Homo sapiens: one gene and its partners. The protein of the gene in region 3 interacts with the protein of the main gene of each other region in a pairwise test. Each region holds a gene or a part of one and is shown on either strand. Other genes may lie near its edges. The genes, in order: CDK18, CCDC87, CDR2 and CHIC2.

Region 1 (4,660 bases), on a different chromosome or scaffold from region 3:
ATGGATTTATGTACTTCTCTTCCAGTGGGGCACACAGTGGAGAGAGTTTGAGACAACACTGCTGAGAGAATTGCCACATGGGCGCTGGCTGCACAGACCCAAACCTCACAGAGTGAAAGGGGACTTTCCTCACAGAGTGAAAGTCGCAGCTTTCCCGAGCCCAGGGAAGCCCCCCAGAGAGGGGCTGTAGTGGGGGCTGGGCAGTTCTAGGAGCCTCCACTGCCCTGGGCCACCCCTCCGCCGCCAGAGCCACGATCCCTGCAGCCGCCTGTGGCAGGTCGTCATTGGTGCCCTGGTGGAGCAGCCCTAGGAAGGGCGGCCGCCCCTGCCTGATGCCGACCCTACCCCTTGCTCCTCGCAGGGGCGTGGGCTGCATCCACTACGAGATGGCCACAGGGAGGCCCCTCTTCCCGGGCTCCACAGTCAAGGAGGAGCTGCACCTCATCTTTCGCCTCCTCGGTCAGTCTCCCGCTGCTCCGTCCCTCTCACCACCAGGGGGCGCCGGAACTCCTCCAGCCCAGGCGCGGAGCGGGACGGGGAGGAGCGGCTCGGCCGCCTCTCTCCCGGGCGGGGACCCCCTGTGGCCTCGGCCATCTTTGCTCCCACCTCATACATTGCATCCCTTTCAAGTCGGCCTTGGCCCTGGGCCTCACGCAGGCCCTCCCCACCCTCTCTCGTCTCCCCAGGGACCCCCACAGAAGAGACGTGGCCCGGCGTGACCGCCTTCTCTGAGTTCCGCACCTACAGCTTCCCCTGCTACCTCCCGCAGCCGCTCATCAACCACGCGCCCAGGTAGCCCCTGCGCCCGCCGCCCCTCCTGCTGCGGCCCTGGCTCTCCCATCCCCAATCAGGCACAGCCTGTGTCCGCGCCTTCTCCTTGCAGGTTGGATACGGATGGCATCCACCTCCTGAGCAGCCTGCTCCTGGTGAGTGTCCTCCCGGCGGGGCCCAGGGAGAGGCAGCCAAAGAGCCAGGTCCCTGTGCCCCATGCCGGGCCTACGCCCCAACTTCTGTGGCTCGTGTGCTTACACGTCTTTGAAACATCTCCCCTGTACTCTCCACCCCCAAGGCCAAGGGGTGGCCTCCATACACATCCTCTGGAGTCTGTGCACTGCGAGCCCAAACCCGTTACTTAGCTGTGTAGCTCTGGGCAAGTTACAGAGCTCCTCCATGCCTCAGTTTCCTCAGCTGCAAAGTGGGATTAATACCTATTTTATAAGATGGCCGTGAGGATACATTGAGATGACGGGACACACTTAGTGTGGTGCCTGTCTTGTAAGGCACACGATGAAGGGTTGTTATCGGCACTACGCTTCCTGTTACGGATGTTCTCCATCTGATCATGGTTGGTTTGCATCTGTATTTCTATCCCAAGAGAAGGTCACTCTCCTGAAGTTTCATTTCTGGTTTTTCCTGGTGGCTGGAGACCGAGGAGCCTTCCCCTGAGTCTTGAGATGGCCTGAGGTTGGGTTTGTGGTAGGGGCTGGAGGCTGACCTGGGGCTTCTCCTGTTAGCCTCAAGCCTCACCCACCTTGGTGCTCTAACCAGCACTGGAGTCCTGCTGCCCAGAGGGTTTGCAGCCCCCCAGCCGGGCCCAATAGCCCCACCCTGTGCCTTTCAGTATGAATCCAAGAGTCGCATGTCAGCAGAGGCTGCCCTGAGTCACTCCTACTTCCGGTCTCTGGGAGAGCGTGTGCACCAGCTTGAAGACAGTGAGTACTGGGGGTCCGGGAGCAGGGCCACCCAGAACCAAGGAAAGGGGTTGGTGAGTGTGGGCAGAAGAACCAGAACAAAGAGGCCAGAGGCCCCAGCCCCAGCAGAGCAGCCCCGGGCACCTTGCCTCCCCTGCTGGGGTTCTCATTCCAAATTGAGGGGGCAAACAGTGGAAATGAGACGCTGCCTCGAGGGCTCAGTTGGTCCTTCTGGGCCAGTCCTTACTGGAGGCCAGCTCCACGCAGCCCTCTCCAGACTATGCACTTCTCTCCCCCAGCTGCCTCCATCTTCTCCCTGAAGGAGATCCAGCTCCAGAAGGACCCAGGCTACCGAGGCTTGGCCTTCCAGCAGCCAGGTAGGGGCTTGTGCTCTCCTGGACCCCTCCCCTTGTTAGTGGAAGCCAGAGCAGGCGACCCCTCCCCAGTGGGGACTCCCATGGTCCCCCCACCACTGGCTTCCCTTTGGACTCTTTGGGGAGCAGAGAAGGGGTTGGTTTCTCCTGCCTAGACTTCCTCGTCCAGCTCTTCCCTCCTCAACCCTCCACCCCAGACAGGACATTGCATTTGACAGTAGCCCTGGCAAAGAGGCATGCTGTCTCTGGTGCATTCTCTCTGCAAACCCTGAGCTCTCTAATCAGATTCCATCCTGGGAGAACGGTACTTTGTTCCTAGAACAGTCAATGGCCTTGGACATTGACAAATGCTTTCCATGCATCGTCTTCTTTAATCCTTAAAATACCCCTTGAAGCTAGTACTATTAATATTCCCCATTTCATAGTCAATGAAACTGAGGCTCTGGGAGGTTAAGTCACAAGTTCATGCAGCTAGTAAGTAGCAGAGATGGGATTTGACACCAGGTCAGACCGGCTCCTGTTTGCATGCCCTTGCTTGCTCTGTCAGAGCAGCTCTGGGGGACAGCGACTGTCCCTGCTGACCTGGGGTACCCGTCAGCCCAGCCTCCTCCCTGCAGCCCCACCTCTTCTCCATTCTCCAGGACGAGGGAAGAACAGGCGGCAGAGCATCTTCTGAGCCACGCCCACCTTGCTGTGGCCAAGGGACAAGAGATCACATGGAGCACAAATTCGGGTAGGATGGAGCCTGTGTGGCCCTCGGAGGACTGAAGAACGAGGGCTGACAGCCAGCCTGGAAGACCGCTTGGCAGCCCTTCTGGCCACGGCTGTTTCTTCTTTGTGCTTCCCGTGTGCCTCCCCAGTAGCCCTCACCTGCATACCAACCCCTCCTTTACCCACGTTGGGGCTGGCATAAGCTGCTTCCCTGAGAGGACATGAGGGGGGGGCGGTCCTCGTACCCTCTCCCACCCTGGTGTTTGGGCACCTGCGTGGGATGCACACGGATGACAGAATCAAGGCGCCAGGATGGGCACTCTGCCCTGGATACAGGCTCTACCCTCCTCCCCCAGGACCTGCCTAGTGCCAGTTTGGTAGTCCCCCTTTCTGGCCCCTTGGAGCCCACACACGTTTCATCTTTTTCCCCTCTGAGAGCAAGAAGAGACATGGCATGTTCTCTGGGACCCTGGAATCCTAGGTACCCACATGTGTGCCAAAGCCTACCCCACCTGGCAGGTGTCCCACAGCAACAGAAGGAATAGTAGTCCCCACTCTTTCCATCAGCCCTACCCTACCCTCATTCCCCGACACCCTCTGGCTTGAACCATGGCTGAGCAGTGCCGGCATACGCTTTGCTGGCATGCTTGGATGCCCAGCTGTGTCCAGAGGTGGCCTGGGACCGCCAGTTGCACGCCTGCCACCTCAGCCAGCCCCCGCCCAGCTCATCAGTCTGAATGGAGTTGCCTTAAATTGGCAGGTGGTACCGTACTCACTGCCCTTGGAGCTGTGACCGGCTCCTGCCTGTCCACCCCTTCCCGAGGTGGCTCCTGCTTACCTTATCATCCCAGGGCTCTGATTAGCCAGGCCTGGTCAGGGTCCTGGGGACGGCACCCAGATATGCAGAGTCACCCTGACACTGGTGCCAGGCTGACCTCAGCTCCCGAAGGCTCGCACAGCCTCCCCATCCTTCCTTCCCAGCCCTTGTGGCTCTGTCCACCTGATCCCAATACCAGCTTCCCCCAGCCCCTGCCACCCCAGAGGGCGGCCACGACAGGGAGAGGTGTAGATGCCACCATCTGAGGGAGAGGAACGTGGAACAGGAGCAGGCTCTGATGCTGAGAGGCTTGCCTCCGGGGGCTGGAAGCCTGGGTGGCCGGGGCCCCTGAAGAAGGCTCCCCTCTGTATCCCCCAGGTCTCCTCAACACTGGGCTGATCCTGAATGGCACAGGCCAAGGGGAGGCCAGCCTCGCCTTTCTACCCAGGCCCCCTGCCCTGCCCACCTCAGGCCCCCACCCTCCACTCCTCCCCACGGTACTGTGAACGTCGTGTGACTCAGTGCAGAGACAGATAATATATTTAATTCATGTACAGAAAGGAGCGAGCAGTCTCGTACAGAAAAGCTGACTTTGATAGATTGATGCCAAAGATGGAGAACTGAAGTCCCCCCTCCAGGCCTAATGAGTGTGGGTGGGGTGTGCTTGTGTGTATGTGTGTGTGTGTGTGTGTGTGTGTGTGTGTGTGTATATATATATATATATATATATATATATAGTGAGGAGAGAGTTTGATTTGTGTGTATCTCTGACCTCCCCTACACCCCAGGCTGTGGGACGAGTGCCTAGCATTCACCTTGCTGTATCCTGGGTGCTGCTGCGTTCAGAGCCAGAAGTTGGCTCTTGCTGAGGAGCATCAGTGGTTGTTGTGGGTGGGCAGAGGAGTCCCAGGCCTGGGAGTCTGACCTGTGGCCTGGCATTGGCCCAAGTTGGTGCCTGTGGGGTGGGGCTGGCCAGGAGAGCAAAGAGGGACCCCTGGGCGGGGGTCTGGGGTCTGGCCGTGCAGCTAATCCCTGTGTTCCTGATGCCAAATGGCCCCCTGGCTTCT
Region 2 (7,144 bases), on a different chromosome or scaffold from region 3:
GTTTGAGAACTAAAAGAGGTGACAATTTAATGTAGTGTGATAGGAATGCTAAAGTGAGTTGTTCCAAAGATCACCTTTGCCTCTGACCCTTCCCACTACAATTAACTCCAAGGTCTCAGTTCTTTTGATATAGGAGATTTGGCTTGTATTGTGCAAGGCTTGACATAATGGGACTACTAGGCTTGGGGATTCTTTCATGAGAATTTCACTAAGAAAACAATAGTTTTAGTCTCAATCCCTTCATAGTTGGAAGCATAATGTTCCTGAACCCTCCACTCCCAGATATAGACAAATATTTCTTCTTCCAAAGCAGTAAAGAGGTCTAGATGAGCTGCTGGCCATTTAGGGGTGAGGGAGGCATTTGAGGGCACTGGGCCTGGTCAAGGAGTAATAGGGGTATTCCCAGGAGCTACTAAAGGCTGGCTGCTGAGCTCCTGAACAGGGTTGACTGGTGGGGATCCTTCAGGGCCGAGACCAGGTGGCGAACCCGCCGCTGCTGTTGCAGCCAATAGAGCATCTCCACTTTGTCACTCTTCATCTTGTCCAGGTAGGGCCGCCCCTTGAAGATCACTGGCTCGCCAAAGATTAACTCTATCTCCTCCAGGAGGGAAACCAAAGAAGACTCCATTAAGTTGAGCTTCCTGTGGAGATGGCTTCGGACCTGATTCTCCTCCAGGAAGTGACTGGAGCTCAAGTTGGTCTTTTTGAAGAAGCGGTTGGGATTGGAAGCTTGTCCCTCAAACCACTCTAGTCTCGCCAGCAATGCCTCCCGCAGCTGAATGGGCTTCAGGGCCCGCTCCCAGGCATTCACCAATGAAGGCAGCTGCCTCAGGCGGGCTTTGGAGCTATATTTAATGGTCATGTCCACCTGGTCCTTGTCAGGGACCTCAAGCACAGACCACAGTTGTTCCAGATGCTTCTGCAGGCTCAGAATTTTGTGGGGTTCTCCCAGGTGGGGTGTCTTCCCAGCTCCTAGCCTGTGCTCTAGCACAGTGTTCCAATCCCACTCTCCTGGCACAAAGTCTGGTTCTTCATCTTCTAGCAATGGGGGAGGGTGCTGAATCTCTAGGGACTCTCTGGCAGGGGCCACAATCTCCACAGGAACCTCTTCTTCATGCATTTGAAAGATGACATGAAGGAAATCTGTTTCATGGTTGGTGAGGTACTTGAAGTAGTCATCCACAGACAAGGTGGTTTTCCATGAGTTCATCAAGGAGGCCTTGTTTGACCACTTCTCCCAGCTTTTGGTAGCTTGGAGTGATGGGAGGGAGGGCATCTTCTTAGTATTGGACTGTAAAGTGTTTGCTCTCTGGGAGTAAAGTCCAACCAGCTCAGGGTTGATGATTTGAGGCTGTTTTTCTTGACGTAGAAAGGCTGAGGACAGGAAGGTCGACCAGTCTTTATCTGCTGCAGGCTCAACTAGGGGCCCTTGATCAAAATGTAAGTGGTCAGAAGAGACATGGCTCATCAACTCCTTGTAGACCTCCCTGGTAGTACTGCCAACAAAGTTATCAATATCCATTTTTTCAATGGCTTTGGGATCCAGTTCACCAGCCAGATGGTTATACAGGGCTCCGGCCCCCTCAATGTGGAAAGAGTCTAAGAAGTTTCTATCAGAGACCCGTACGGCAGCCGCCTGGACCACGACCTCATTTCTAAGCTTCAAAGTAATGGTCACTGGCTGTGGGTGAAGTGGAAAGGATTTGGGGGGCTGGGGGTCCCACTGCCCAGAGGCTTCTTCCTCCTGGAGGTTCCTCAACATCTTCTCCAGCTCCTCCAGGCGATGCCCTGCAGCTGGGTGACGGGTCACAACCCCCAGGAGAGGAGGCAGGCCTGAGTCCAGTGGTGGGTAGCGAGTCCCCTCCAACTTCATCTTCTTTATCAACTGCTTCAGATCCTCAGCCACGATGAGCCCAGTCAGCTCTGGTTTGCTCTCTGTAGCCAAGACCAGCGGGGTTAAGGGGCGAGATGGGAGTGGAGGAAGGCCCAACTCATCTGCCAGCCTCCAGCCCTCACGCAGGGAGGGCATGGATTGGCCTCTCCGGAGCTCAGGGCAGAAAGGCGAGGGGGAAGCCCTGCTGGTGGGGGCCACAGGATAGCTGGGCAGCGACACCATCTGTGAGGAACTGATGTCGATTTCTCTCTTCTTTCCTATGGAGGGCAGCCAGTGGAAAGGCTTTTTCCTCTTCAACCGAGGGATGGACTTCAATTCCTTCACTGGATCCATCCTTCCTGGCTCATTGAGAAACTCTGGTGGACGGCTGAGTTGGATGAGGTAGTTCAGGTTGAGGTTAGAGCACTGCACTTGGGCGAAGCCAGTGCTGTGAGGCCAGGGGATAGGGCACAGCTTGAACGTCCCAGCGGGGCAGACAGGGTGCAGCTTGTCCACATCCCCAGAGGCCTGCTCTGCCCTCAGCAGGGCCTGGAAGTCGGCAAGCAGGCCACGGTAGACGTTGGGACTAGTAAGGAAGAGTGTGCAGTCCCTGGCGAGGCTGGCGGCCAACCGGGTGAGGGTGGCTGATTCAGTGAAGACCCCCCTGGGAGTCGACATGGTCACCAGCAGGTGCAGGTAGCGCAAGAAGAGCTGCTCGCTGCTCAGCAGCACGTAGGCCTCGAGCCGCTTCCGCAGCTTCTGGTTGTTTTTGTGGCTCAGACTAAGTTCGGCGGGCGGCTCCCGCCAGCTGCACTTCAGCTCGTCCAGGATGACCTTGATGAGACGTAGTCGGGCCTCAGGAGGCACTCCCGCTGCTATCCCGCTGCCGGCCAGCAGCTTGGCCACCTGGCTGCACAGCGACGCCACCGTCAGCTTCGCCAGAGGGAAGGACTGCAGAATCCGGCCCTCCTGCGGGGGGCGCTTCTGAGGCTCTGGGGACGTCGTCCTAGTGGGGAAGAGCGACAGCGGACGCAGCAGCCGGTGGTAAAACCGCTGGAGCTCAGGCTCGGGCTTCGGGGGCTCCATCATAGAGCCGGCGGCCGCCACCGTCCAGGAACAGAAAGCCGAGGGGTTACTAAGGCAACCAGGAGCCCGACGGCCCGAGTGCGCCTGCGCGGCCGCCACCCGGTGGCTGACGAAGCAGGGCCTTGCGTGCGCACGCACTAGGAGGAGGAGTTAAGGGTGGCTTTAGAGGCTCAGTCCCCGCGACGCCGCGCTGGTTGGTGCTCCTGCGCCGGAGGAGTTCTGCGTCTCGGGGTGGTGACTGGGTCCAGAATGGCTTCGGATTCGGGGAACCAGGGGACCCTCTGCACGGTGAGGGTCGAGGCTTCGTGTGGAGCCTCGCCGGGCAGAGAGCCTCGGCCCCTGGGATGATCGTTACCTTGGGAAGAGGAGAAGGAGTGGGCACTTGGGTTGGGGCCTGGGGCCATGGGATGAAACTAGGGTGCGAGGGTAGCAGGGGCCCTGCGTGAGTGTTGGGGGGTGACTCCCATGGTCCTGGAATGGTCATGAGAGATCATGAAGAAGGTGCTTGAAGAGGGGTTAAGTGGGGCTTGTTCCCAGACCCTTGCGGTGGTCATAGGGTAGGTGGTGAAACAAAGTCATACCAAGGCACTTCCCCAGCGATCATCGGTTGGTCCCTGCCGCCCTTGCAGTTGGAGTTCGCGGTGCAGATGACCTGTCAGAGCTGTGTGGACGCGGTGCGCAAATCCCTGCAAGGGGTGGCAGGTAAGAACAGGGTAAACTTTTCTGCAGACAGTCCAGAAGCCTCTGGGAGGGACCAGGCGAATCTATTAGGCGAACCCTACTCCCATTTTACAGATGCAGAAAGTGAACCCCAGAGAGTGAAAGGCATGTTCTCAGAGTTACACACAGACCTGGAGGCAGAGCCTAGAGTACAGCTGTCCAGCTTGCCCTGACAGATTCTAACTGCCTGTCTTGTTGTCCTGAACCTCAGGTGCCCCAGAGACTGAGGAGCTAGGCTGAGGGAGTTCCTGGGAAAACAGGCAGTTTTTGCTTGGGAAACAACATAATCTTGACAAAGCAAACAGCAGCTCAGGCCCTATACCATCCTGGGTAGCTTTCTATACCACTGGGTGTGGTGGCTCATGCCTGTAATCCCAGCACTTTGGGAGGCCGAGGTGGGTGGATCACCAGGTCAGGAGATCGAGACCATCCTGGCTAACACAGTTAAATCCTGTCTCTACTAAAAAATACAAAAAATTAGCCGGGCGTGGTGGTGGGCGCCTGTAGTCCCAGCTACTTGGGAGGCAGAGGCAGGAGAATGGCGTGAACCCGGGAGGCGGAGCTTGCAGTTAGCCGAGATCGCGCCACTGCACTCTAGCCTGGGCAACAGAGTGAGACTCCGTCTCAAAAAAATAATAATAATAAATAAAAGGCCAGCTGGTCTGGAGGTGACCTGGCACAATGAGAAAGATCTGGAAAGGTAGAGCCACCAGCATGGCTCTGGGAACTGGCTTCCTTTGATTCTGTTAAGTGTTTATCCAGGCCAGGCTCAGTGGCTCACGCCTGTAATCCCAGCACTTTGGGACACCAAAGTAGGTAGATTGCTCAAGTCCATGAGTTTGAGAGCAGCCTGAGCAACATGGCGAAAACCCTCCTCTATAAAATATACAAAAATTAGCTGGGCGTCATGGTGCACTCCTGTAGTCCCAGCTACTGGGGAGGCCAAAGCAGGAGGATTGCTTGAGTCCAGGAGGTGGAGGCTGCAGTGAGTTGGATCGCTCCACTGCACTCCAGGCTGGGTGACAGAGTGAGACCCTCTCTCAAAAAAAAAAAAAAAAAAAACAAGTTCACCCAGTCATTCGGCAGGTATGGACCAGACACTGGGGCTTTTTAGGGAGAAGAGTTCACATGGGTATCAGGCACATCCCCTGCACTCAGGTGGAAATGAGCATGCAAGCGTTGCCTGGATGGCATTCGCAGAATGCTTCGTGGAAAGAGCAATGGTGAGAGGGAATGAGATAAGATGGCTTCTGAAGCTGGGACCCTGGTAGTGGTGGACTCTGTAAAGTGATTAGGGGTATGAGCTCTAGAGTTCAAACCCCCTCTTTGCCACTTAATGGCACTAAGACTTCATGCATGTTACTTTTTGTGTCTCTGTTTCTTCTGTGTTAAATGGGGGATGATAATAGAAGCTAATCTGGAGGATTGTCCTGAAGAGTAACCGAGTTAATACAAAAAAAGCATTTAGAAAAGTCTTTGGCATGTAATAACAGCCCAGTAAATCCTAGGGGATTATGAGAAGAAGGGCTTACAGGTGGTGATCTGGATGGAAGGAGGCTGGAGGGGACAATGTTGAAGCTGGGTTTGCTTAGACTACGCGTTTTGGGTGGTGAATGGGCCCTCCACTTCCTGTACTACTTGCTTGCGAGGAGAGCAGACAGCTGGCCTTTCTCTTGGACCCGGAGCAGTTTTCAGCCCTCAGCATGTTTCTTAGGCAACAGATAAAGACTTCTGGTGACTCTGTGTTTTCTGGTCCGGCTTGGCTTTCTCATGGGGCCAGGGAGGGAAGCTGTAGTTTTCTAGAATACACACACACAGAGAAAGAGAGTTGCCATCTCAGGAGGCCTGGGGGAAGGCCTTCTCAGGAGGTAAGCAGGAGGATCCCCCAGCCCAAGGCTCACCCCCTTGAATCTCTATCACTTGCCCTGGTGTTCTCTGTGGCCTTCTGTTTTCTCTCTCACTGGGCTCTGAGCCAACCAAGGGTGGGCCTGGCTACATTCCAGGGTCTACCAGTCTTAACTCAAGGAGCAAACTGAATGGCTGCTTGGCTAAGGTACCAGCCTCCCTCTTGGTTTAGACTCAGTCAATAATTCAGGAGGTACATAGTGACAAGGAACTTCCCACTTCAGGAGCAGAGAATCAGCTCTTCTCTGGAGACCTGAGGGTCTGGGAACCCTCCTATGCTGAGGCCTGTCATCAGGACATCTTATCTGCTATGTGTCCAAAACATACTTAGGCCTCCACACTGCTCCAGGCCACCCCACCTCTCCCTAGCCTGTGTAAGAACCTCATCCTTTGATGGGTTCCCCATTGCTTCTGTTGCCCCCTCTAATAGCTTTTGCACATAAAAGCCAGGGTCTTGTTCTGCTCTGTTGCCCAGGCTGGAGTGCGGTGGCACCATCTCAGCTCACTGCAACCTCCACCTCCCGGTTCATTTGATTCTCCCACCTCAGCCTCCTGAGTAGCTGGGATTACAGGTGTGCACCACCATGCCTGGCTAATTTTCATACTTTTACTAAAGATGGAGTTTTGCCATGTTGGCAAGGCTAGTATCGAACTCCTGGCCTCATGTGATCCACCTGCCTCAACCTCCCAAAGTGCTGGGATTATGGGTGTGCGCCACCACGCCTGGCCATCTGACAACTGACTTTTTTTTTTTTTTTTTGAGACGGAATCTCGCTCTGTTGCCCAGGCTGGAGTGCAGTGGCGCAATCTCGGCTCACTGCAAGCTCCGCCTCCCGGGTTCATGCCATTCTCCTGCTTCAGCCTCCTGAGTAGCTGGGACTACAGGCGCCCGCCACCATGCCCGGCTAACTTTTTAGTATTTTTAGTAGAGATGGGGTTTCACCGTGTTAGCCAGGATGGTCTCGATCTCCTGACCTTGTGATCCACCCACCTTGGCCTCCCAAAGTGCTGGGATTACAGGCATGAGCCACCGCGCCCGGCCGACAACTGACTTTTGAACTTGACCCTTGTGGACCTCACAGAGCTCCTGCCCTCACAGAGCTGGCGGCCTAGGAGTGAAACAGGATTGTAGTCAGTGCAATGTGAATTACAGGAGGGGGAGTGTGAGCTGCTACAGGACCACAAGGGGTGTGGTCCTAACCCAGCTTGGAGCCTAAGGGCTGCTTCCTAGGGTGAGTACAATATCTGGGTTAAGTGCTGGGGCTCTGGAGCTAGGCTGCATGGTCAGAGGTCCAGTTGCACAACTTACTACAGTGCGACTTTGAGCAAGTTTCTTCATCTTTCTGTGCCTCAGTTTTCTCATCTGTAAAATGGGGATCATTGTACCTAACTTAGAGGCTTAGTAGGAGTACCAAATATGTTAAGACAGGTAAAACACAGGATTCGCTCACCGTCCATGCCCAGTAAGTGTTAGCTCTACTAATGATGGCAATAGTCCCTGCCTTTTATGTGTGTAATAGCTTTATTAAGATATAATTCGGCTGGGCGCAGTGGCTCACA
Region 3 (5,222 bases):
AATTAAGATAATCTGGGACAAAACACTTTCAAACTTCTAACTGCAAAACTGCATATATAAATAGAGCTCTTTAAATAGGCAAAGGAGACTACAAATGGCTAACAGATTAAAAAATATTGTCTTATTAATAGAAATGCAAACTGTTTTTAAATAAGCTATACTATTCAAACATTAATAGTATAGTTTGAATAGTATAGTTTGAATAGTATAGTTTCTTTGCTATGGTTGATCAAATGTTTTGAGAATCAATTTGTCAAATGCTATTAATTCAGAACCAAGTCTGACATTTCTGAAATAGTGAAAATTACAGAGTATATAAATTTGAAAATGTTTGTCCAGAGTAGTTTTAATGAGCATTTAGCAATATGAGCAGAATTTGTGCTATTAAGTTACACAAATCCAAGGATTCCCTGTTTAAAATAGGAAAAAAAAAATCACTGCAAATCTTTCTCGCGATATTTGTTGGAAGAAAAAAAGTGAACAGTTGGTTATAAGAGCGAAATGGCTTATATTGAAAGTAAGACACAGATCCATCTGTTCATTTTCATAGGTAGCTTTATTTGGTTTTTAGAAAAATATATACAATAATCGGAACATCAGTTCTTAAATAGTTTTAAGTTAAAAGAATGCAAGTGAGAGGATGTTTCCACAGTCAGATCAATACTGCTTAATAAAGTAGATAGGAATTTCTGCAACAAGTCAAAACATTTACAGGAATGGTAAGAACTCTGCAAGAGCAGCTTGTGGCTGGCAAGTCAGCCAGCTCAGAAAACAGGTAGGAAGGGAAGGGGTTTGATCTTTCCCCTTTAGTTTGAATTTGAGAAAGTGATAAAAGATTTACATATTCACCTATCCTAAAGGCTAGAGCTTTGAGTAAAAACATTAGAATACAGGGATGGAGGCCCTCTAGGGCATATGCTAACAAGCTAACTTATATCAAACAAAAATTTGCCATCTCAATTTGGTATTCAGTTGGATTTGGATATATTAGGATTACCTGTCAGTCACAGTTCAACTAGTTCAGATATAACAAAACTCAAGGACTTGGAGTATTGGTTAATGACATTTCTTTTGGATTAGACCCCTGCTTTCTCTCGAACATTCTTCGTAATGAATTCACAGTATTCAAACTGTTTGCAAAGATATTTGAGTTTGACAGCCTTCTGACTTTCATCGTTTTGAGAAGTTGCGCAAGGAAGCAATAGGAATTGCCTTAGCTTTGTTCTAACTCGACCCTTTTCCCCCATACTGTAGTAACTCCAGGCCTACTTCTCCAGAAGTATAGCTCTTCCCTCCACTGGTCCTTTTCAGGAACTGAAGTCTAATCAGCGCGCCAGCCAGAGGCCAGTTTGTCATGGGATTTCCTGGGGAGCTTAAATGGAAGTGGATCAGAGAACTGATACCACTAGCCACCTCCTTTCCTCGTTGTATGCATTTGCTAAATAAGCAAAGCAATGAGGCAAACGTCATGAGTAACATTAGGCTTCAGAGTCTACAAACACTTGTCTGAATGGGAGAGAGAGGCGATAGGCAATAGGCAAATTAGTAGTAGAGCTAGAGGTTCAATTAAGAATGAGAGGAGAGTGATCGGTATTTTGTTCTCTGTTCATCTATTTCCTGCTTAGTTTTCTTGATGCAACTAAAGATCTCCTTAAACAACGCTTTGTATTCTGGAGGTGTTGTAGGGGAACTCACGGGCTCTGGGTTGACAGAGGCCAGTTCCCAGCCGCTGGCAACAGGCTCAGACTGGGCGTTCACTCCAGTCAGGTCCTTGGCTGCAGCCCTGGAGGTCTGCACAGCCTTGTGTGACAGGGAGTCCTGTTCCTCTTGGCACTTCTTCAGCAACTCTTCATACTTCACCTTCAGGGCGCTGTACTGCGTGTCCACTTCGTGCAGAAGGGAGATGCCCCTCTGTTTCACAGCCTTGGCCCTCCTGATGCAGGTCTCCTCGTGGCCCTTCACGATGTCACTCCCTGCCAAGCTGCTGAGGATCGTCTCACTGCTGCTGCGCTTGAGAGGCTTTCTATGTGATTCCGGCACAGTCAGGAACATCTCTTCCAGCAGGCTCTGGCTGGGCTCTTTGAAAGGAACATACAGAGAGTCTGGCACCAGCTTCTCAACTCCATTCACAAATGGATGCTCTGACTGCAACATCTGTCGCATCTCTGCCACCTCGGCCTCTAGTTCCAGCGCCCGTGCTCGGTAGGCACCTGTGGCCCCCAGCTGCTGCTCCAGTTCACTGTTCTCCTTTAACACGAGCCCATATTCCTCCTCCATAGTCACCCGCTTCTGCCGCTCCAGGCTCAGCTGGGCCTGCAACATTGTCACTGTTTTTTTCAAGTGCTCATTTTCCTCTTCATCAGGGCTTGGCTGACCTTGCAAGGAAGTGATCTTCTCAGCGAACACATGATCATACACGAAGTGTCTAGGGAAAAAAATATTGAAAGAATATATTACACAGGTCCACTGAAAATGACGAGAGGAAGACTGGTGATTTTTTTTCAACTAAATAAATTTGAGGAGCTGTGACAGTGACTAATTTTTTTTTCTTTTTTTTTGAGACGGAGTCTCACTTTGTCGCCAGGCTGGAGTGCAGTGAAGCGATCTCAGCTCATTGCAACCTCAGCCTCCCAGGTTCAAGCGATTCTCCTGCCTCAGCCTCCCGAGTAACTGGGATTTTAGACATGCGCCACCACGCCCAGCTAATTTTGTATTTTTAGTAGAGACGGGGTTTCTCCATGTTGGTCAGGCTGGTCTCGAACTCCCAACCTCAGGTGATCCTCCTGCCTTAGCCTCCCAAAGTGCTGGGATTACAGACGTAAGCCACCACACCCGGCCAACAGTGATTGGTTTTTAGCCACACTTGGAGCAGTGGCTAAAATGGAATTGTGTGAGGCTGGTAAATAAACACATGAAAGCAAACTCAATTTTTGTGACAAATCTTTTTTTAATGTTAAAAGTACTAGAGAACATCTATTCTAGCAGTATGACAATGACCTCACAAGGGAAACCTTAAAAAGTACTGGTGCCTGGGTCCCAACCCACAGATTCCAACCTAGTTGGTCTGCTACCTGGCCTGAGGGTTTCTAAAGGCTCTCCAAATGATTCATAATATGTAACTACGATTGAATCACTACAGCAAATTACTGTTGCTGTGGTGATTTTTAACCAGGAATGTTCATCAGAATTGCCTGGGCAGCTTTTTACCCGCACCTAGAAATTCTGATTTAGGCCTGAGGAAATGTGTTGGTATTTGCATTTTGAAAAACCCCACAGGTGATCTGATGTACAGCCAAGGTTGAGACCCACCAAATGAACCACCTGGTTTCTCCTGCTCAGTCTGAAGCACCTTGACTATTTATTTGTGTTTTTATTTGCTTATCTGCCGTTCCGTTAGACTGAAAGCTCACAGGGGTAGAAACTATTTTGCTCGCCAACCCTTGGGTCTAGCATACAGCTTGCCACACAAGTGTTCCATAAATACTTCTTAAAGATTCAGACTTATAACTCTAAATTATAAAGGTACTTCTTTAAGCAAAAAATCTCCTGTTCGCTTGAATTTTTGTTTTACCAGTATTTCTGTTTTTCTTCACTCTAATGTAAAACACAACTCCCAAATCTAGTCTATCAGAATTCATCTTAAACTATGATTTAATACATTAAAAACACTGAAATAAGTGTTCCAAGACTTTCAAAATGAGAACTACTAATATCTAAGAACTCTGTAATTTATATGTTTAAGTGATTTTGTTCAAACCAATGGTAGCTTAATAGCTAAGTGACTTTTCTTAAAATGGTACTTTCAATCTACTGGAAATCAGAATGTGCCAATGACATGAGACAGTCCCTGCTGTAACTCCACAGAAAGGCAGGCTCTTACTGGCGGAGGTCATACAGCTCCTTCAGACATGCAAAGCTGGGTGCCGGTTTCTCCTGGTCACACTTTCCCGGGCTCCTTCTCCCTTGGCCAGATGACTTCAGCTCCTCCACTTGGCTCTGGAGGTGATCAATGTTGGTTTGCAGGCATTCAATCGTTTCAGTCAGGCTGTGAGGAACAGACAGAAGCCACTGCTGCTTGTCATATTGAATCAAGGGCAAAAGCGGTGAGGAGAGATTAGGTGCAAACCACTCACACTGGGCTTTCTTAATTGGAAAGGATGTCTATTTAATCTCCATTCTCCAAAAAGAATTAAATTAAACCTTATCCCATATTGACCCAAACCCACTGCAGCCATGTTCTATTCTAGTTTATACTAAAGAACTTCCCCCTAGTCCTTCCTTGTCAGATTCTAGAAAATTTACCTCAGAATCTTTTGCTGTGAGGCCTTGCTGTCAGCAACTAGCTTTTGATTTGTTTCTTCCAGTTCCCTTGCTGTGACGTCTAATTGTTCATAAACCTTTGCATGTTGTTCGTTCATCTGCCGTAGAAGTTCCACTTGCTTCGTCAGATACTGTAAGAGAAGATCAGGACCAGGTGACACAAACAGATAAGATACCTGCTGTTTCTTGGCTGGCTGCGGTGGCTCACGCCTGTAATCCCAGCACTTTGGGAGGCCAAGACGTGTGGATCACCTGAGGTTAGGAATTCGAGACCAGCCTGACCAACATGCTGAAACCCCGTCTCCACTAAAAATACAAAAATTAGCCAGGTGTGGTGGCACACGCCTGTAATCCCAGCTACTTGGGAGGCTGAGGCAGGAAAATTGCTTGAACCTGGAAGACAGAGGTTGCAATGAGCCGAGATGGCGCCATTGCACTCCAGCCTGGGCAACAAGAATGAAACTCCATCTCAAAAAAAAAAAAAAGATACCTGCTGTTCTGCTGTTCCAACACCAATTCTCCGATTGTCAGCACCAACTCTTGTTGGGGTGGGGCTGACATAGAGTCTCCATCTCTGGGCTCACTGGCCTCCCAGCACTGCCCAGAAGCTCCTTTAGACCCATTTCAGTTTTCTCCAGGTCTTCTCTCACATCAGCATGATTGATTCAATTATTGGCCATTGGTGACTGAACTCAAGCTCCAACCCTTCCCTCTATCCAGAGGTTGTGGGGCTGGGACTGATAGATCTAACCCTCTAATCATGTGGTTGCCTTCTCTGGTGACCAGACCTCAACCTATCAGGAAATTCCAAGGGTTTTAGGAGTTCTATGCCAGAAACCAGGGACAAAGACCAAATATATAATTTTTATTATACCACAATACCATATGTTTATTTTAAGAAA
Region 4 (7,038 bases), on a different chromosome or scaffold from region 3:
AACAATGAGAACACATGGACACAGGAAGGGGAACACCACACACCGGGGACTGTTGTGGGGTGGGGGGAGGGGGGAGGGATAGCATTAGGAGATATACCTAATGTTAAATGACGAGTTAATGGGTGCAGCACACCAACATGGCACATGTATACATATGTAACTAACCTGCACGTTGTGCACATGTACCCTAGAATTTAACGTATAATAATTAAAAAAAAGAAACCCTGTCTCTATTTTTTTAAATACATTTTTAAAAAATAAAATTTATTTATTTAAAAAAATTTTTTTAAAGTATCATTTTTATACATATAAATACAATTTTTGAAAATTTTAACAAGAATATAATACATTCAATCTATAATAATTTGTCATATCTCTACCAACATCTTAAAATTTTGTTTATTTGTTTGTTGAGACAGAGTTTCACTATTGTTGCCCAGGCTGGAGTGCAATGGCACGATCTCAGCTCACTGCAACCTTCGCCCTCCAGGTTCAAGCGATTCTCCTGCCTCAGCCTCCTGACTAACTGGGATTACAGGCACCCGCCACCACGCCTGGCTAATTTTTTGTATTTTTAGTAGAGACAGGGTTTTACCATGTACGCCAGACTGGTCTTGAACTTCTGACCTCAAGTGATCCGCCCGCCTTGGCCTCCCAAAGTGTTAAAATTGCAGGCATGAGCCACTGTGCCTGGCCAGAATTTTTTATTATAAGCAGTCAAAATAATGAGTCTTTGAAATTATTTTTTCTGATTACAGAATCACTTTGTGCTCACTACAGGAAACTTGTAAAATATAAAAAGCAGAAAAGAATGTCCCATAATCTTACCAACAAGAAACAACCATTGTAACCATTTTATTTCTTGTATGGGTACCATCTTACAGTCAGTAAGAATACTATTAATTAATACTTATTAACCACTTCCTTTGAGATATTCAGCTAAGAGTTTTCCAAACATTTTCATTTTACCTTTATATTCAAGTAGTAGGTGAACATTTTACAGTTGTGTCAAGTAGGGTTTAAAGAGGTTAGGAAACGTGCCTAAGGTCACAGAGAAAAGTGGTAGAGCTGAAGCCAGCATCCTTGATCACTATACCACACCACTGTCAATGTACAGATACAGACAATGCCATACACTACTCCTTGCTTCTAAAATTATAAATATAATTTTTAGATGGCTATTTAATAACAGCACTTGGATATATAGTAACTTTACTGACTCACTCCTCTCCTGGATCAGATTATTTTCATATTTTATTCAGGATAGTGTGATTCATTCAATACAAAAAATAAAAACTAGATAAATGCAAGACTTGCTTGTCCACTTCTAAATTTAAATTAAAATATATAATTCAACTTACTCTTTTACTGAGGCAAATAACTGGCCACATACTGCAACCTAATGTGCAGCAGCAACAAAGGCAGCCACAAAGTAGCCAACGTACATTAACAGGAAGGTTCTTCTTAAGACAACTGTTAACTCTGTTGATGCTGGCTTTAAATTCTTCAGGAGCTACCTAAAGAAAAATTTTAAGAAATAATAACAATGCAATATTAATGTCAAAAAACATGACTGATGAGCATACTTTTTTCTAATTTTCTCAGAAAAAAACTTTCATTTTGAGGCATACAAATAGTACATAAATGAGACACTCACTTTTCCAGTTAATGAAGAAGGGAATTCAGATTCAAATTTGTTGCTCAGTCCAAATCTATTTTAAAAAATAAGAAGAATATGTTATTACATGTTATTGTTGCCAAAAATGTAGACCATTTAATTTAAAGGTCAAGTCAATAGAAAGCATTTTCACATATGGAGGAAGTTTTAGACATAAAATGGAAGTTTGAGATAAAATAACTGTAACAAGCAATTTATGAAATGTAACAATTATTTTAGCAGTTAAATGGAAACTTTTGCATAATGATAAGGGGCTGAATGTTAATTAACCAGCAGTATGTAAACAAAAATATAAATGGTTCATTTAATTTGAGCTACCAACTTTATATCTTAAAAAGTAACTACAAAGCATATTATTTTAATGGGTGGGATAGCGATTTTTTCCAGCTTTTAATGTTATTGGTGGAAACAAACAATACCTGTGAATTTTAGCAGGTGTCCTACACAAGCAATAAGATGAGAAGGAAAAATGCAGGAAAAAGAGTGAGGAGGGGAAGAATAAGGAAAAAGGGAGAGAAAAAATAAAAAAGTAGGAATGGACAAAGTGCTACCAAGAACCGTCTTAGGTTCCATTGAACACCTATTTGTCAGTGCATTAGATGGTATGAAAGAAAATGTAGACGTGTACTATACCTATATCTATTCCTATTACCTAAAAGACCTTTTCTTGAATCATGGTTAAAATATTCCATGGCTTTAGAATTGATAAAAGATTTAAACTATTTTCAAAGAATGGTAAATATAACAAGAAGATAAAAGACATAATAAAAACAACCTATCTTGCTTTTATCTATCAGAAGTCTACCAGTACTTGGAGAACAGAGAATTCATTCAAATCACAACTACTGAGCACATTCCATGCAACACTTCAGTGCAGGCTTTTATGGCTTTTACAGCTTCCTTTGTTTCCTTAAGAAATCACACACGAGACCAATTTTACTTTTATATAATTTGAGATAATTTTGAAAGTTCATGTAATACACTGTAAAGTTTTGAAGGGGGGACTCCAACTTTACACCTAAATCTAAATGGAATCTTGAAACAGGCTTGTTTTACTCATATCCCACATACATCCATTTCACTATCTCTACATTCCTCCAGTCTATAGTCATAACTCTGCAAACCACTCCAATCTGTTATCCTGCTTTCTCATGATCATCATATTCAAGTTTATCTTTCCTGATAGACCTTGAAACCCTCAATCTGTTGATCTGCAGCTATCAGGATACCTCCTTATATCTTATCTTAAAAAACAAAACAAACCTTAAATACATACAGTCATGTGCCACATAACAACGTTTCAGTCAGGACATACTAGAAGGTGGTCCCACAAGATTTTAATACTGTATTTTTACTGTACCTTTTCTATGTTTAGATACACAAAAACTTACCACTGTGTTATAACTGCCTACAATACACAGTACAGTAACATACTGTACAGGTTTGTAGCCTAAGGGCTATGGGCTATACCATATAGCCTAGATGTGTAGTAGGCTACACCATTTTAAGTTTGTATACACACACTCTGTGATGTCTGCACAATGATGAAATTGCCTACTGACCCATTTATCAGAGTAGTCCCCATAGTTAAGCACCACATACTTGTATATATCTTCACTTTAACCAAAAACCCTGTTGAAATGCCACTCTTTCCTTAGAAATCCTCAACTACAGTTCACTCCTGACCTTATCTATTCTAAAGAACTTTACCTCCTGCACCTCCATCTAATTCAGCAACCTACTCACTGTGATATATTCTGCATATTGTCATCACTTGGGACTGTATCACCTCTGAAATTCTGAACTGTAAAATTCTTCTCTTACCACTGCCATCAATCATTTCATTTCTCCCATCCTTACTAAATTTGTTTTTTGGCCTCTGGTTGTAATATATTGCTTCCCACCCCTCCATAGCTCCCTATGACTCCATTTCCTTCCTTATTTGCCAGAACTACATAGTCAATCATTTTGAACATACTCCAACAAACACCTTTAATCATCTCTACAGTGTCCCTTGCCAACCCAGGTTCAATTAAATTGTTTACCTTCTTCACACTGCCTGGAGCTACTGGAGAAAAATCACATTTATAAATGTATCACCAATAATAAATATATATATAACATACATATCTTATTTCTAATCTCATGAGTATTATTGTAACAATCTTTATTCATCCCCAGTAAGTTCTCTTTTCCATGCTCCGTAGTTGTTGTGCCTGTCTTTAGGTACTCCACTTTATCCTCACAACCAACATTTTTTTGCAAATAACCACAGTTGTCAACTCTGAGAGAAAAAAATGTCATGGAATATAAACTGCTTTACCTTCCCTCCCTTTTATTTTTGGATTTACTTATATATCTTCAGTATTTTTACCATCTCTCAATGGAGGAAAGCTTCCAAAAACTAACCATTTACTTCTGAGTGCATCTCCTCCAGTCTCCTCTGCAATTCACTGTATTTCTACCTCGCTTCAGGCTCCTTAAACATAGCCTACAAACCTGAATTAGTCTATCCACCTGAGGATGTGAATCCTTATTTCTTCTTCTCTCTCAATGTCTGATGGCATCTATTTCTTTCCTTCCTCAACTAATGTTTTGAAAGACTCCTTTACATTAACTATCTTTACGTTACCTCCCATTCATTATTCAAACTACCACAATCCAGGCTTTCCTACACACTTCTTTACTAATAAGACTGTTCTCATCAGAGTAGTTGAAAACAACTCTTTTCAGCAAGTCTTCTTTCATATAGCATGCTTTCTCCTGGCAAAGAGCTTGAATGTCAGAATTTCTTATTTGGCACAGGCCACAGCAAATATCTCCTTTGCTATGTTTTTCATCCCTGCCAAAACCTTTTTTTTTAATCCAAATCTAGACCAACCAAAACAATAGTAGCAGGTAGAATTTTAGCAAGACGGTCTTATTTTATTAAATGGATAGGAAAAGTCACACTTCTTGTTTGATAATATAACTGTAAAATATCACCTCTAATGATTTATTTTTGACATAAACCACTTAATTTTGACAATACCTTAGTTCTGGCTTCTTTTTTAAGTTCAGCAGGAGGCAGAGACTGTTAGAATGAAAATGGCATCTATGTTTTGTTTTCAATTGACAGCATTATAAATGTACCTACAAGTTTACATAAAACTTTTTATATATGGTAAAAATAATTTCCTTTATTCTAAGACAAAGTACAACTGGTTCAGCACAGTATTAGAAAGGCCAAGTTTCATCCCATAAAATAATAATTTGATGTACTTGAAAGAAGAGCAATGATTCCTGCATTGAGTAGGAAGCTGAACCCCCTTCAGACTCTAATAACCAAACATTCTACTAATCCAAAAAGCCAGAAGTAACACTTGGATAATTTTTAAAAATATGATTTAAAGTAGGTGGCATCTTAATTCAGTTATCTACAAGACTAATTAAATTTTAAAAAATATTTTATGTTGGCAAGAAGGTCAAGATGGAAAAATATCACACACTGTCAATGGAACTATAAATTGTTACAACCATTTCAGATTAATTTGGCATTGAAAATATTTATACCTTTGTCATACTGTTTTCTCTTTAGAAATGTAATATTACCTAAAAAATAACTTGAAATGTGGATTAAATTTATGCATAAACAAGTTCATTGAATCTTTATTCACAAATATAAATATGTATCTATTTACAACATTTTAGGAATGGTTAAGAAAATTATCTTATCTCAATATAACAGAATATTAAACAACCATTAAAAATGAAATTTGCAAACTAAAAACACAGAAATACCATTGAACATAAACTTATTTACCTTCCCTCCCTTTCATTTTTAGATTTATTTATGTATCTTCAGTATTTTTACCATCTTTCTCAATGGAGGAAAATGTTGAAGAAGAAAATTCAATATACCATGATATTAACTGAAAAGAACAAAAATCTTGCAAGTTGATAGAATTTTCAGGAGTGCCATCTGGTAGTATGTAAAACGGGTCTTAAAAAATATTCCTACCCTGGCTGGGTGTGGTGGCTCACACCTGTGATCCCAGCACTTTGGGAGGCCAAGGCAGGTGGATCACCTGAGGTCAGGAGTTCGAGACCAACCTGGCCAACATGGTGAAACCCCATCACTACTAAAAATGCAAAAATAGCTGGATGTGGTGGTGGGCACCTGTAATCTCAGCTACTCAGGAGGCTGAGGTAGGAGAATTGCTGGAACCCGGAGGCGGAGGTTGCAGTGAGCCAAGATTGCGTCACTGCACTCCAGCCCGGGCTGACAACAGTGAGACTCAGTCTCAAAAAAAAAAAAAAAAAAAAAAAATTCCTACCCTTTGACCCAGTAATTCTACTTCCAGAAATGTATCAAGAGAAAATAGCTGCAGTGGCACAGATATGTTAATGAATAATCAAGTATTCTGCAGTGTTATTTTAGGGAGGGGGTATTAAAGACATTTTGTGTCATTTGTTTTTTTTTAAATAAGAGCTATTTTTCAGAAATGTATAGTTCCTGCTAACTAAATAATTGACGAGTATTTTATTTTATTTTTTTGAGACAGAGTCTCGCTTTGTTGTTCAGGCTGGAGTGCGGTGGCGTGGTCTCATCTCACTGTAACCTCTGCCTCCCGGGTTCAAGCGATTCTCGTGCCTCAGCTTCCCAAGTACCTGGGATTACAGGTGCTCGCCACCATGCTGGGCTAATTTTTGTATTTTTAGTAGAGACGGGGTTTCACCATGTTGGCCAGGCTGGTCACAAACACCTGACAAGTGATCCGCCCACCTTGGCCTCCCAAAGTATTGGGATTACAGGCGTGAGCCACTACACCCGGCAGACAAATATTTTATAATGTACAATACCACCCTAATTTTGTTTTCTTATTTGAATATTTTATTTGGTATTAACTAGGTATTTTAAGATAAGTAAACAAGGAAATTTAGGTTCACTAATCAATAGTTTTCTTGAATGCATTTCAATGTTTTCCATAGTTCAAGTCCATCTAATCCTCTGTCCTTCTTACTTCAGTTTTAACTTCTTCTATGTTCCTTGTATCTCCTCATATTAACAATGTCTCTTGGCATTCACTACTGAGCTATCATTTTAAATTAAGACATGTTTTGAACTCATAACGAATTTTGCTTTTTAAATGCAGAAATGCAAGAATCCACTGCTTCAACTTGTTTTGCCCTTAATCAAAAATATATGTTCAATGTTTCTTTTCTTCTGAGTTACAGTGATATTTTTAACAGTGAAATTTTTAAAACAGAAATATCTTATAATTAAATTAATTATAATACAACAATCTGAAAAGATGCTACACAGCTCAAAACCATGTATACTAGAGAGAGTAGTCTGTTACTCCGCATGCCTAACTAGG

Evidence for each region.
Region 1: the proteins of CDR2 (region 3) and CDK18 interact in binary tests that used the Homo sapiens proteins (3 or more experiments, as listed by UniProt).
Region 2: the proteins of CDR2 (region 3) and CCDC87 interact in binary tests that used the Homo sapiens proteins (3 or more experiments, as listed by UniProt).
Region 4: the proteins of CDR2 (region 3) and CHIC2 interact in binary tests that used the Homo sapiens proteins (3 or more experiments, as listed by UniProt).

The regions. Positions count from the first base shown.
Region 1 is NC_000001.11:205,528,638-205,533,297, forward strand, and holds the end of CDK18 (cyclin-dependent kinase 18), read left to right. Parts: intron 1-361; coding exon 362-459; intron 460-686; coding exon 687-792; intron 793-883; coding exon 884-926; coding exon of another isoform or gene 927-1,136; exon of another isoform or gene 1,137-1,615; intron 1,616-1,621; coding exon 1,622-1,712; intron 1,713-1,990; coding exon 1,991-2,068; intron 2,069-2,706; coding exon 2,707-2,741; 3' UTR 2,742-4,153; downstream 4,154-4,660. UniProt on the Homo sapiens protein: May play a role in signal transduction cascades in terminally differentiated cells.
Region 2 is NC_000011.10:66,590,054-66,597,197, forward strand, and holds CCDC87 (coiled-coil domain-containing protein 87), read right to left. Parts: upstream 3,011-7,144; 5' UTR 2,963-3,010; coding exon 413-2,962; 3' UTR 123-412; downstream 1-122. Other genes in the region: CCS (copper chaperone for superoxide dismutase), read left to right, coding at 3,209-3,247, 3,589-3,661. UniProt on the Homo sapiens protein: Plays a role in spermatogenesis, where it is important for normal sperm head morphology. Also required for the acrosome reaction and thus normal male fertility.
Region 3 is NC_000016.10:22,345,399-22,350,620, forward strand, and holds the end of CDR2 (cerebellar degeneration-related protein 2), read right to left. Parts: intron 4,452-5,222; coding exon 4,303-4,451; intron 4,046-4,302; coding exon 3,881-4,045; intron 2,426-3,880; coding exon 1,567-2,425; 3' UTR 538-1,566; downstream 1-537.
Region 4 is NC_000004.12:54,047,594-54,054,631, forward strand, and holds part of CHIC2 (cysteine-rich hydrophobic domain-containing protein 2), read right to left. Parts: intron 1,713-7,038; coding exon 1,658-1,712; intron 1,518-1,657; coding exon 1,362-1,517; intron 1-1,361.